Linked DNA regions of Homo sapiens: region 2 is reported to be linked to region 1. The links are microRNA targets in miRTarBase. Many come from high-throughput screens and were not tested one by one. Region 1 holds a microRNA gene; the other region holds the end of a gene's coding sequence.
Evidence for each region. Region 1 holds the annotated microRNA hsa-miR-2110 (UUGGGGAAACGGCCGCUGAGUG, at 2,161-2,182, shown strand). A microRNA usually pairs through its seed, bases 2 to 8, with sites in the 3' UTR of a target mRNA and lowers its output. Matches are read on the target gene's strand: a 7mer-m8 pairs with bases 2 to 8, a 7mer-A1 pairs with bases 2 to 7 and ends in A, and an 8mer does both.

Region 1 (5,374 bases):
GCAATTTATTTATTACAGTAACTGCAGGGTTTTTTTTTTTTTCCATTCAATTTTGTTGATTGCATCCCCCGGCAGGAATACTTCACAGGTGGTGTTGTGCTTCTCTATTGTAGCATTTCAGAAAATACATAGTATGTAGTTGTTTCACTTTGGAGGATATTAAGATTGATCTAGTAGGTTCAAGTGGTGCCAGCCCCATCCATCCATTACAATACGAAGCTTCCTATCAGTTTTTCATCTAATGGTTCTAGATTCACAGATGACCATTACCTAGATCCATTATTTCATCAGGGTTTGCAAAATGGTGATCATCTATCTTTCTTTCTGCAATTATTACATGGAGTTCTACAGAGAAGAGCTTCCCCACATTGACTATTTGATTGACATTCAGTTTGCAACAGGAAAGGTAGGATGAATGCTTGATTCTTTATCAGTTCTCAGATTGTAATGACTTGTTGGCATCTTTCCAAGAGGGTCAATGACATTAAAAAAAATAAATGCACTCACTGATTTTTTTACATAGTGCGTCTCAACCAGTTGCTGTTATTATTTTTGAATGCTAAATTTGTCCTGTTTGAGAAGTTGGGGCATCTTTGAACTGCCTTCTGAGTCTTTTGGGTACAGTTCATGTTATCTTTGCTTTTCTTCCTTGCTTTCTGCTACAAGCAATATGTCCTAGGCTATCTTGCATATTTCTTGCCCCTACTGGGAATCAGCACTTAACCTCCAAGAGAAGCCAAGGTAACTTTTTTTGGGCAATGCTCTTTAGAGATCACAATCTGGGGAATAGGAGTGTGCAATGGGTTGGTCACTGTTCTAAGAGTTTTCAGTGGACACACCTTTTTTTTCACGAAAAAAATGTACCATGAGTTAATTCTGATATTTGTAAATTCAAATATAGGATTGCAGAATTTTAATATAATGTCTTTGGTTTATATTTGTATTTCTTTTCTCTTATGGTGAAAAACTTGGTTCACAAAGATATATTTATATACTTTATACTAATTATAAATTCAGAAATATTCAGAAATAGTAATACCTATGTTATTACTGACGAGTACCGAAAACAGCTTAAGGTTTCTTCAGTTTTTTCCCCTTGGATTAATGTCTCCCTAGGAAGGCTTGGTCGATTTATTGTTTTAAAGTCAAATCATTTATTTTCTATGACAAGACACTTTAACTGCAAAATGTGCTTCAGTGTAGTACCTTCATTTAAGGAGGAGTGAGGTGCCATTACACCTCCGTGTGTGTGTTTTGCCAACAGTATCGAAGACGCTTAACAGAACAGTAGTAAGTTTTGCTTTACAAATTCTTACATTGCAGAATCGTCTGCATCAGCTATTTTCATTCATGAGATATGTGTAAGACCTAAACCAAAGAACATCGTTTCCCCGGACTGAGGAGGTTTGCGAAACCTCCAGAGACTGAACTGCTGACCTTCCTTCTCTGGGCCGGGCGAGGCAACTGTACCCAATACACTTTTTGTTGCCATGCTGCGTGCCAGGTTACTCAGCCGGGAGAGGACACTTCCTACCATCAATGCGCTCAGCTTGAAGCCAGAGACGAAGGCACCGACAGTTTATTATTAAACAATGGCAGCAGCGCCACGCTGAAGACACGAACGCGCTGTTATGGAACCCCCAGAGGTCTCCCCCATCGTAGCCTGCTCCAGCCGACTCCGCCCACGTAAGGTGCAAGGTTTCCGCATGAGAGCCGGGAAGCCACAATTTCAAATTCTCTTTTATTGCTTTATGTCCCTGACTCATGCAGGCCAAAGGGTGAGGAGGAGTAATAGCCAACAAGAGCGTCCTGCAGAAAGAAACAGGCTGCGTGGGTCCGGAGGAGCTTGAAAGGAAGAACCCGACCAAAGGGCAGGAGACCCGGCTCTCCAGGTCGCGGAGGCGTGGGTGCCCAGCCAGGCGGAGTGCGGGGCGGGGCCTCTCGGGCCGCAAGGTGGGGCCTCCTGGGCCGGGAGGTGGGAGGTGAGCTCCGCCAGCCCAGCCCACTGCAGACAGGTTACCCAGGACCTCAAGGTGTGCTGCGTCACCCCGCCCGCGCTGCGCTGATTGGTTCCTCCAGGGAGCCCCCGCCCCCTCAGCTGTAACCGGGCCGGCTTCAGTGTCGCCGCCATCTTTGTTGATGTGTCAGCTCCGCAGGGGTTTGGGGAAACGGCCGCTGAGTGAGGCGTCGGCTGTGTTTCTCACCGCGGTCTTTTCCTCCCACTCTTGGCTGGTTGGACCCCGCTATGGAAAAGTTGGCCCCTGAGCCAGAGCTCCAGCAGCCTTGTTAGGGCGTGGCCTGAGGCTTGGATAAGTGGGGTAAGTGTCTGAGGGGTACTCGGGGCACACCGGTGAGTCGCGGTGGCGGTGCGGTGGGGCTGCCAGCCTTCCGCTCCTTCCTGCACGTTCCGTGGCGGGGGCGAGGGCGAGTGCGAGGTGGAGGTCGAGGTCGAGCGGGCTCCCCGCCTGGCTCCTTTGAGGGCGCGGAGGAAGGGGAGGGCTGGGGAACGGGTTTCAAGCCCTTTCCTCTCCCTGCCTTCCTCCTTCGGTTCCGGGACCTTGGAGGTGGCAAAGAGGGGTCAGCGGGGGTCGTGGGGGCTGTGCCTCGAGAGCGTCTGAATTCGAGCCCATTGCCTGGGCTGCGTGTGAACTGCAGCCAAGCCCTACCTGCTCGAGAATCTTTCCTAGACTCAATCGCCTATTTCGTTTTTCGTCTCAAGTTGACTGTATGTGGGTGTTTTATATTTACTGTTGTGAAGACTTGTTACCCTCTTCCAAACACTTCCATTACTGTGATTCTAAGTTCCTTAGAAGTGATTCTTTGGAGTGGTGGATACTGTTCTTTATGTTGTCTTTCAAGGACGTCAAGGCATTTCATAAACCTTGGTTGGTAAGGAAGGGGTTTCAGATTTATGTCTCCATCAGTAATGAAAAATGGCAAAAACAAAACAAAAACCCTTCTACGTGTCCCTAAGTAGCAATCTTGGGAAACAGTGCAGGTGTGAGTATTGCTTAGCTGTTAACAGTTTAACAACTTCACCTAATATTCCCATCTTGATTTTGTTTAGAGGAAAAAGTCCTGGATTTCGAGTCAGAACATCTGGATTAGAATCCTACTTCTTTCACTTGATAATCTTGTTACCTGTGGAAATCAGAAGAGAGAATATAGTAAAAATACGCAGTACAGTCCCAGGTACTTGGCCGTTTTCTCTGCATGTGTGTCATGTTCCTTTGATGCCCAGCTTTTTTTTCTTCCAAAACGATAGGCCGGGTGTTGTCTTCTAAGGTGTTCAGTAAATCAGGGTTTCAAGAGGTGTGCTGGTAGTCATTCAGAAGAAATTAATCTGCTATTATCTATTTAGGTATGCTAGTTGTGGGTGTGGCTTTCCCAACTATCAAGTACACCTTAATATTTACCGAGTGTTCATCTCGTGGGAAGGATTCAGGTTCAAGAGAGATTGATAGTGAAACTGAACTATCTCTGTGTGTAATGTACACTGTTCCCTGTGTAACTTCAATTCTTTATCCAACATTACACAAATAAAAAACAGTAATGATTGGCTAGGTTCATTTTTCTCTTTTATTTCTGGTCTTTTCATGTTATTTTTAATGCAGTGAAGATATTAGATCACGAATCTTGCAGTATTAAGAATTAAAACTTTTTACAGCATAATAGGCAAACGTATGATTACTGAAGATTCTCCCTGGAAATGCATGGATTGTGTTTGTTTTTTAAAGGCCCTGTTAAATTCAGAATAACTGCATATAAACTTAAGGTTTCTTTAAACAGTGGAGATTCCATAGTGTGTCATTGGCTTTTGAGTCCTATTTATTGCTAACGGAAAGGGTTGGCTGGTGTGTATCACAGTGACCACTCTAACCTTTTAGTTCTTTCACCCATAAAGTAGAGTTGTCCTTTAATGCTATGCAGTGACAGCATAGCTAATGATTGCTTAGTATGTTCAGTTTAGAAACATCTATTTGCAGCTTTATGCTGACATCACAGAGTGAAGATAAAAGCATTGCAGTATACTGACTCCAGGAAGAGACAGTAGGTTGAAGCACAAAGCAGCTTTATTTGGAGATTTAGAAAATAATCTTTCCCTTTGAAGAAGGACTGGTAATCTGCACTAGTTTCTCAAATTCATGCAACAGTTTCGTGTTAAAGTAAGAATCCTTACCCTGAAATTTTTTTTCTTTTAGTAAAACTTAGGTTTTTCTTTTATCTCTACCTTAAAATAACTAAAGCTGGTTTTTCAATTTCTCATAAACATATCACTGAGTTTACAGTATTGCAAATGTTATACTTAGTATTCATTTTAGGGGCAGCAGTGAGATCATAGATAATTTAATCTATTGTTTCAAACTGCTTTGAACTTTCTTAGCTACTGAGATTTAAAAAATGTATTTGGGCTAAAAAGTAAGAAAAAGGAAAAATACTGAGATGAAGGGACAGTAGACACAAAGTGGAAATCAGCACCAGCATAGTTTTGATTGGATTGTGAGTGTATTTCTTATTAACATTTGTCTATCATTAAGACACTTGAACTGATAATTGTGGGATTATGTAGACTATGTAATGTCTACCGCACTTACTACATAATCCCACGGTAGACTATCAGTTCATGTTTTTAATAAAGTAGAGCATACCAAATTAACCAACTCTGGCCAAAGGTGTCTTCAAAATTTAAACATTAACCCAAACTTTTTAATGTAATGCAGGCTTATAACTTGAAAAAAAATTTTTTTTAAAGATACTAGGCTTCATTTTGTTTAGTTTTTTGAGACAAGATCTCAATCTGTCACCCAGGCTGGAGTATAGTGGTATGATCATAATTCACTGTAGCCTTGAACTCCTGGTCTCAAGCAATCCTCCTGCCTTAGCCTCCTGAGTAGCTAGGACAACAGGCACAGGCCACCATACTAATCTTTTTAATTAAAAATTATATATTATTATTTTTTATAGACCAGGTCTTGCTATGTTTCCCAGGCTGTTCTCTTAATTCCTGGCCTCATTTGATCCTCCCATCTAGGCCTCCCAAAGTGCTGGGATTACAGGTGTGAGCCACCTGTAAAGGAAGGCCTGAGAGCCTTCCTTTTTGAAAAAGGAACTATAGGTCAGATTTTTTTTTACCTACTTTATTCCTTTTCAGATTTGGAGGAAAATTAGCTGATAATACTTTTCATGTTTTCTTAGACTCATTAAAGTGCAAGTGCAATCTTCAAATTAGATTTCTGTATTAGTAGGAAGTCATTTCTGATAACTTTCTGCTTTAGTATTTTAAAGTATTTATAGGAGACATGTAAAATTACCGAGCTGATATGACATATATGGTGTAACTTGATAAGGTGAACTATGATGTGGCCACTGACCC
Region 2 (5,374 bases), not on the chromosome of region 1:
CCCATCCTGGTCCTTGCACTCACTCTCCAGGGCACCTTGGGCAAGTATTCTCACATCTCTCAGCCTCTGTTACTTCAACCCAAAAACGAGGAAGTTGGGAACAATCATAACTGTGGAGACTTCTATTCCTGATTTCTAAAATGACAGGGGGCAGAGACAGGGAAGGGATTAAAGGGCCAGGGGTTCTCTAAGCTCACCTGTCCTCAGGGCCCAGGGATCCTCGTGGAGGCTGCTGCTCTGTTAGAACCTGAGTTGAAGGGAATCTTAGAAAGTGCTCCCCACCCTGTGTAAGCAGTCTGGATTCCCCAAGAGTGGCTGGCAGAGGGTAGGCACTGTGGGTTGTAATATCCCAGTGTGTGAAGGGAAGCTTCAGAGAAAGCCAACTAGTTTGTCTTTGGGACGCCAGCCAATCTCATCATGACCTCAAAAATGGAGGCTGTGAGCTAGATGAGTGCATGAGTTAAATCAAAATTTCGGATTTTAAAAAATCTTCCCTAGCCCAAATACCTGTAGTTAAAATCCTCCTTAAAACTCGCATCTTCACAAATACATTGGAGTGTGCAATCAGTCCTTTCCAACTCACAAGGCTAAAGAAGGAGAATGTGATGTCCCAGCATGTTTAGGGTCCTCTTGGTCATCTTTAAAGCGGTGTCACTACATCACGTGGGGGAGGGCTGAGCTTGCCTACTTTTTCTTCTTAAGGGAGGAAGAAGCCGGAGAGGGGACTAGGATGCCTGAAAACGATGGGAGACTGCATCAACCTCAGCCTCTGACTTCTCTTCCCCCGTTTCGTGCTCCATCCAGCCCACTGAGAGTCTCAGGTAGGCGTGGGCTTGAGCAGAGGTGGGTTCAGATCTGTGGAAACAGATTAAAGCTCAACAGGTTAAAGCTCAACAGATCAAGTCAAGTCCAGGTGCCCGCAGAAAATCCACTGCTACAAGCCCTGGTTTCTACCACACCCCTCTCCTGACTCCGAAGCTTTCGTTGGCGGTTGCCTTCCCAGACAGGAGAACCCAGGTTTCACTCTCCTGTTTCTTCGGCTTCTGACACCTTGAAAAGAAGCCTAGGCGCTCTTACTGTGCCTGCCCTGCGCTGGCCACAACCTAGTTCATCCCCTGCCAACATCAAACTCCAGATCCTGGGTAGAGAGGGCAGCCAGAGAAAAGATCCCAGAGTGACTGGAGTTCCTTTATGGTTGCCTCTGAGGTGCAAAGGATGTCAGAGGGATTTGTGGCAAGCAGAGTCTGAGCCCGCCTACAATCCACACGACTCTTTGCAGGGAGTAGAGGGAGAGAAGCGGGAAATCTCCCTGGCTGGTATAATGACCTGAGCCTCCCTTGGAAGCAGGACCTCGCCTGGACCTGCCCCGGGGGCTGACGACTTTGGCCTCGGGCGGGGGGGTGGGCACAGGAAGGCGAGGGAGACACACTGCTCGCAAGGATGTCTATGCCCACTCTCGACTGAAGCGGGCAAAAGGGAGAGAAACGCGGCGCCAGCCTTCAGTGGTTTAGTCCGCGGAACTTGGCGCTAGGCAAATTCTCTGTGGAAACAAGCGCCCTACCCACCCACACAGGCTGAATAAGGCGGCAGAGGCTCCTCTCTGCTTTGCCATATGGAGGAGAATGGGGAAATTTATTAGCGTGGTTTTACCCGCAAAGTGCTGAAATAGCCAGTATACTGCCTGTCTCTCGTGTGTCTATATGAATCTGCAGGTCTGTGTGCGTCCACGTTGGAGGGGATGGGTGATGGGTATTGAGTCCCTACCCCCGCCCCAAAGGAAACGCACCGTGGTCACCATCCCTCTGTGAGCCTCTGTGCACCTTGGTAGCCTTTTTCGGAGGGCTCCGCGCAGCGGGGACTTCAGCGGGCTAGGCAAAGCTTTGCTCAAAGAGCAATCGCTGGCTGGAGTCTCGGGTTGTGTGCAGGAGGGGCGGGGGCCGCGGCTCTGTTCTGCTCTGCTCTGCTCTGCTCCGGGGCCCGCGCGCTCTCCTGCTCCAAGCCTCAACCCTGAGCGGTTCTAGCGCCCCGCACGGTCCGCGCTGGGCCTTCTCTTCCGGGTCTGAAAACTCTAGGTCTTGGTTGAAGAATTTCGAGCTGCTTGGCCGCCTTTGCTAGCATTTTGCGCTGCCAAGAAGACCCCAGTACCCGGGGTCGAGAGAGCAGCCCTGGGATGGGACTATCCGGCCAAATTTTAGCCTTTCCTCCTGGCCACCTGTGGCTACCCTTCTTCCAGATGAACTGTAACTTTTCCGGGGCTTGTGATATTCCGATTCTGATGAAATGTGGAAGAACTCCACTGCTAGGGTAAAGCCCCGCAAGAACTTCAGGTGATAACTGACTAGGAACTGGGGGTGGGGGTGGCGGAAGCAGGGGCGCCTCCTGCGAGCACTAGGGTGGTATTCGTCCTTCTGACTCCCGCCCTCAGGCGCTCACCCCCCCGGCTCACTTCATCCCTGAGCCCCCCAGCTCTGCCGTGCCCCCTGGCCTGGCGAAAGGTGGCCTAAATAAGGCAGAATTCTACCTGAAATCACATCATGACATTCCCCGATGATGATTTTCTTCACGTTCAAAGCCCCGGGGCCAGGGCGTGGACCTACGGTCTGGGTTTGGCGGTAGCGGAAACCTCCAGGGCCAGGTGAGGAGCAGGGGAAAGTGCGGTTTGTATAAAGCATCCTCCCCACCTTTCTTCCCTAGACTCCGCTCCTCAGCTAAGTGTGCGTGCCGACGCGTTATTCTCCTTAACGCCAGAGCTGGATTGAAGCACCTCAAAATTCGATGTGCTTGGGATATCCTGCTTCCAGAATTTCGATATGTGGGGTCAGGGGAAATTGATATCGATAATGCAGACAAAACTGAGGTACAGAGGGAATCCTGAAGTTTGGCAGCAGAGCCTACAGAAGGCTTGAAGAACTATCCCAGCCCTGGCCCGCACCCAGGCCAGGTGGGGAGGCTGCCCTGGCCTGGAAACTCTTGTGACACAATTAGGGATAACAGCTAGTTCATGTTCCTATTGAAGATGGGGTCCCTTGTGGTATGCTCTTTCTTTTCTCTTGACTAAATTGTACATCTCTGATCATTCTGCCCCTACTCCATTCTCACTGCTCTTGAATCATCTCGATTTGGGGACTTAGGGGGTTGGCTGGGTCAGGAAATGATCATCTTTGCATCCATGTGTTGGCTTTGGGACTTGTTATCTGTATCTTGTATCTGGCTATGCAAGTGTAAGAAGGCTCAATCTGCTGCCTCTACTTCACCCCTGGATGGAAAAGTCGAGAACAGAGATCCTGGAATGAGCTCCAGGGGAATGTCTAAAAGTGGAGGAGATAAGCAAGACAGAGGACTGCTGAGAACTTTCCCACTCTGGCCAAGGGACTGAGGTGTGTCCTAGGCTCTCTGACTTCAGCACCTCTCCTCAACTCATTCTGAGAACTGGCCACCCCGCCTGGATGCTGGGTCTGCCAGAGACCTTGTGTCCTTCACTTGCTCAGTGCCGAAGAGATTGGCACTGAGACTGATCAGGATTTCCCAAAGAAATCTATTTGCTATAAAATCCCCCCAAAGAGCTTTTAGCAACTCCAGACATTTCACAGTTACAAGCAGGAGGACAGGTCCTGGAGAGAGGTTTAACTTTTCACCTTTAAAAGAAATAAACAAACAAAAAATCTTTGAATTGCCCATCCTAGTAGCAGTGTCAAGGTTTACTACATATTTTCCAGCTGCAGTGGGATGGGGAAACTGCCTCACGACTCTCAGCAGCTTTGGGGAGAAAGAGCTCATCTAGGCACCTCCAGTGGCCAAATTGCAAAGGAAAATTTTTGCGTGGATGAGGGAATGGAGGATGCAACTTCATAGTTCTATCCGTGGCCACATGTAGGCCAGGAAGTCCAAGTTCTGATCTGGGCTGTGCCTCTGCTTCACCTTGAAGAAGTCACCTCTTTGTTTGGCATGTTTACAACCAGGGCCCTGGCACTCTAAGACCCAAGCTTCCAGCTCTAACCACTGTGTCATGTCTGTCCTTTCCTCAGCAACATTGCAAACCTGTCCTCTACCCCATCCCGGAACAAGGAAAAGTTTGTGCAGGGCTCTGGGCCCGCGCTTCGCGTCCACATAGTGATTACAGCTGTGCCTAGATTGACCCCGCCTGGCATCACTGCCTTCCCCATTCCAACTCTGAGTACTCTAGGAACTCATTTCGTCCATACTGTGAATGGGGAAACCATCTGTTGCACTGGCCTAACAGTTTCTATGGCCTGCTCCACTCTCAGGCTACTCAGGGTCTCAGAGGGCACTTTCAGTGGCAGTTGGCGCTAGAAATCTCTTAATTAGAAGCCTCTAAACCCAGACGCCCATCTCTGATGTCTGTAACAAGATGGCTCTGAGGTTGAGCCACTTCCCCTGAAACTCCAGCCCCACCACCTTCAGCTGCTGCATTCTACAGTGTCCCCGGGACTAAGGTCCGGTTGTAGATCTCTGGCCTTAACAACCCCCAGCAAAGCCAAGCGGCCTTTACAAACCGTAGTAAACATTTTATTTACAAATTTAAGGCGTCCTAAGTGCCTTTGAGCCACGACCTCTGGGGCGAGTCAGAGAAACAGTTTAGTCAAACACCTCACAGTCGAACCAGCCTGCTTCCGGAGAGAAGTGTTCGGCTGGCTAGCAGGACACTGAGACTCCCCTCTGCTTTGGGCAGTGTCCGCTGCAGCCAGTCGGAGCAGCGTGGGGCGAAGCGTGAATGTCGGGAGGTAGGCTCCACGCTGCGTCTCCTGCCCTACCAAGTCGCCAACATACAGTAAGCACAAAACCCAGCCCATGGTTGGGAGGCTGCACGCAAGGCCCGGATCCCCTCCGCCCTAGTACAGTCTATAAGCAGCCAAGCGCGCCTTGGGCTGGCTCGGGGCTTTTGGGAGCGCTGCTGGCTGTGGGCTGTGTTGCAGGGAGAAGCTCCGAGGCGCCGCCGCCGCCAAGGCTGCTGGCGCAACCCGCACTGGTGCTGCTGCTACTAAGACTGCTGGCGCTGCTGAAGCTGAAACTATTGCCGCCGCCGCCGCTGCTCCCACCACTCCCAGCACTGCTGGCGGTAATGAGGGCGCCAGTGACCGGGGCCTTAATAACTGTTGTTTGGTGCAGAGAACGCTCACTCCCCTCAGTCCGCTCCGTGTCGCTGGGGGCCATGTCCAGGGACTCGGAGTCGCTGCTCTCGCTCTCAGCCTCGCCTTCAGAACGGCTGGGGCTCCTCTCGTCCTGCTCGCCATCCGCAGCCGGGGCTCCACCTGATGGCTTCTCGCCAGCCTCCTTGTCCTTGTCCTTTTGGGCCTGGGCCTCCTTGGAGTGCCGCCACTTCATCCGCCGGTTCTGGAACCACACCTTCACCTGC

Region 2: the mRNA of HLX is a reported target of hsa-miR-2110. The part of its 3' UTR that is shown has no 7-base or 8-base seed match.

What each region holds. Positions count from the first base shown.
Region 1 is chr10:114,170,959-114,176,332 of GRCh38, reverse strand. It overlaps MIR2110 (microRNA 2110), which reads left to right and starts at 2,154; the gene lies at 2,154-2,228. CCDC186 (coiled-coil domain containing 186) reads left to right here and starts at 2,130. Exons shown (of 16, transcript NM_018017.4): 1 at 2,130-2,318. It also overlaps a transcript of TDRD1 not described here. RefSeq lists a silencer at 1,795-2,064 and enhancers at 2,125-2,324, 1,920-2,448.
Region 2 is chr1:220,884,191-220,889,564 of GRCh38, reverse strand. HLX (H2.0 like homeobox) reads right to left here. Exons shown (of 4, transcript NM_021958.4): 4 at 4,506-5,370. The coding sequence ends at 4,861. Among named protein-coding and RNA genes, the nearest start is that of HLX-AS1, 6.7 kb to the right of the region's middle.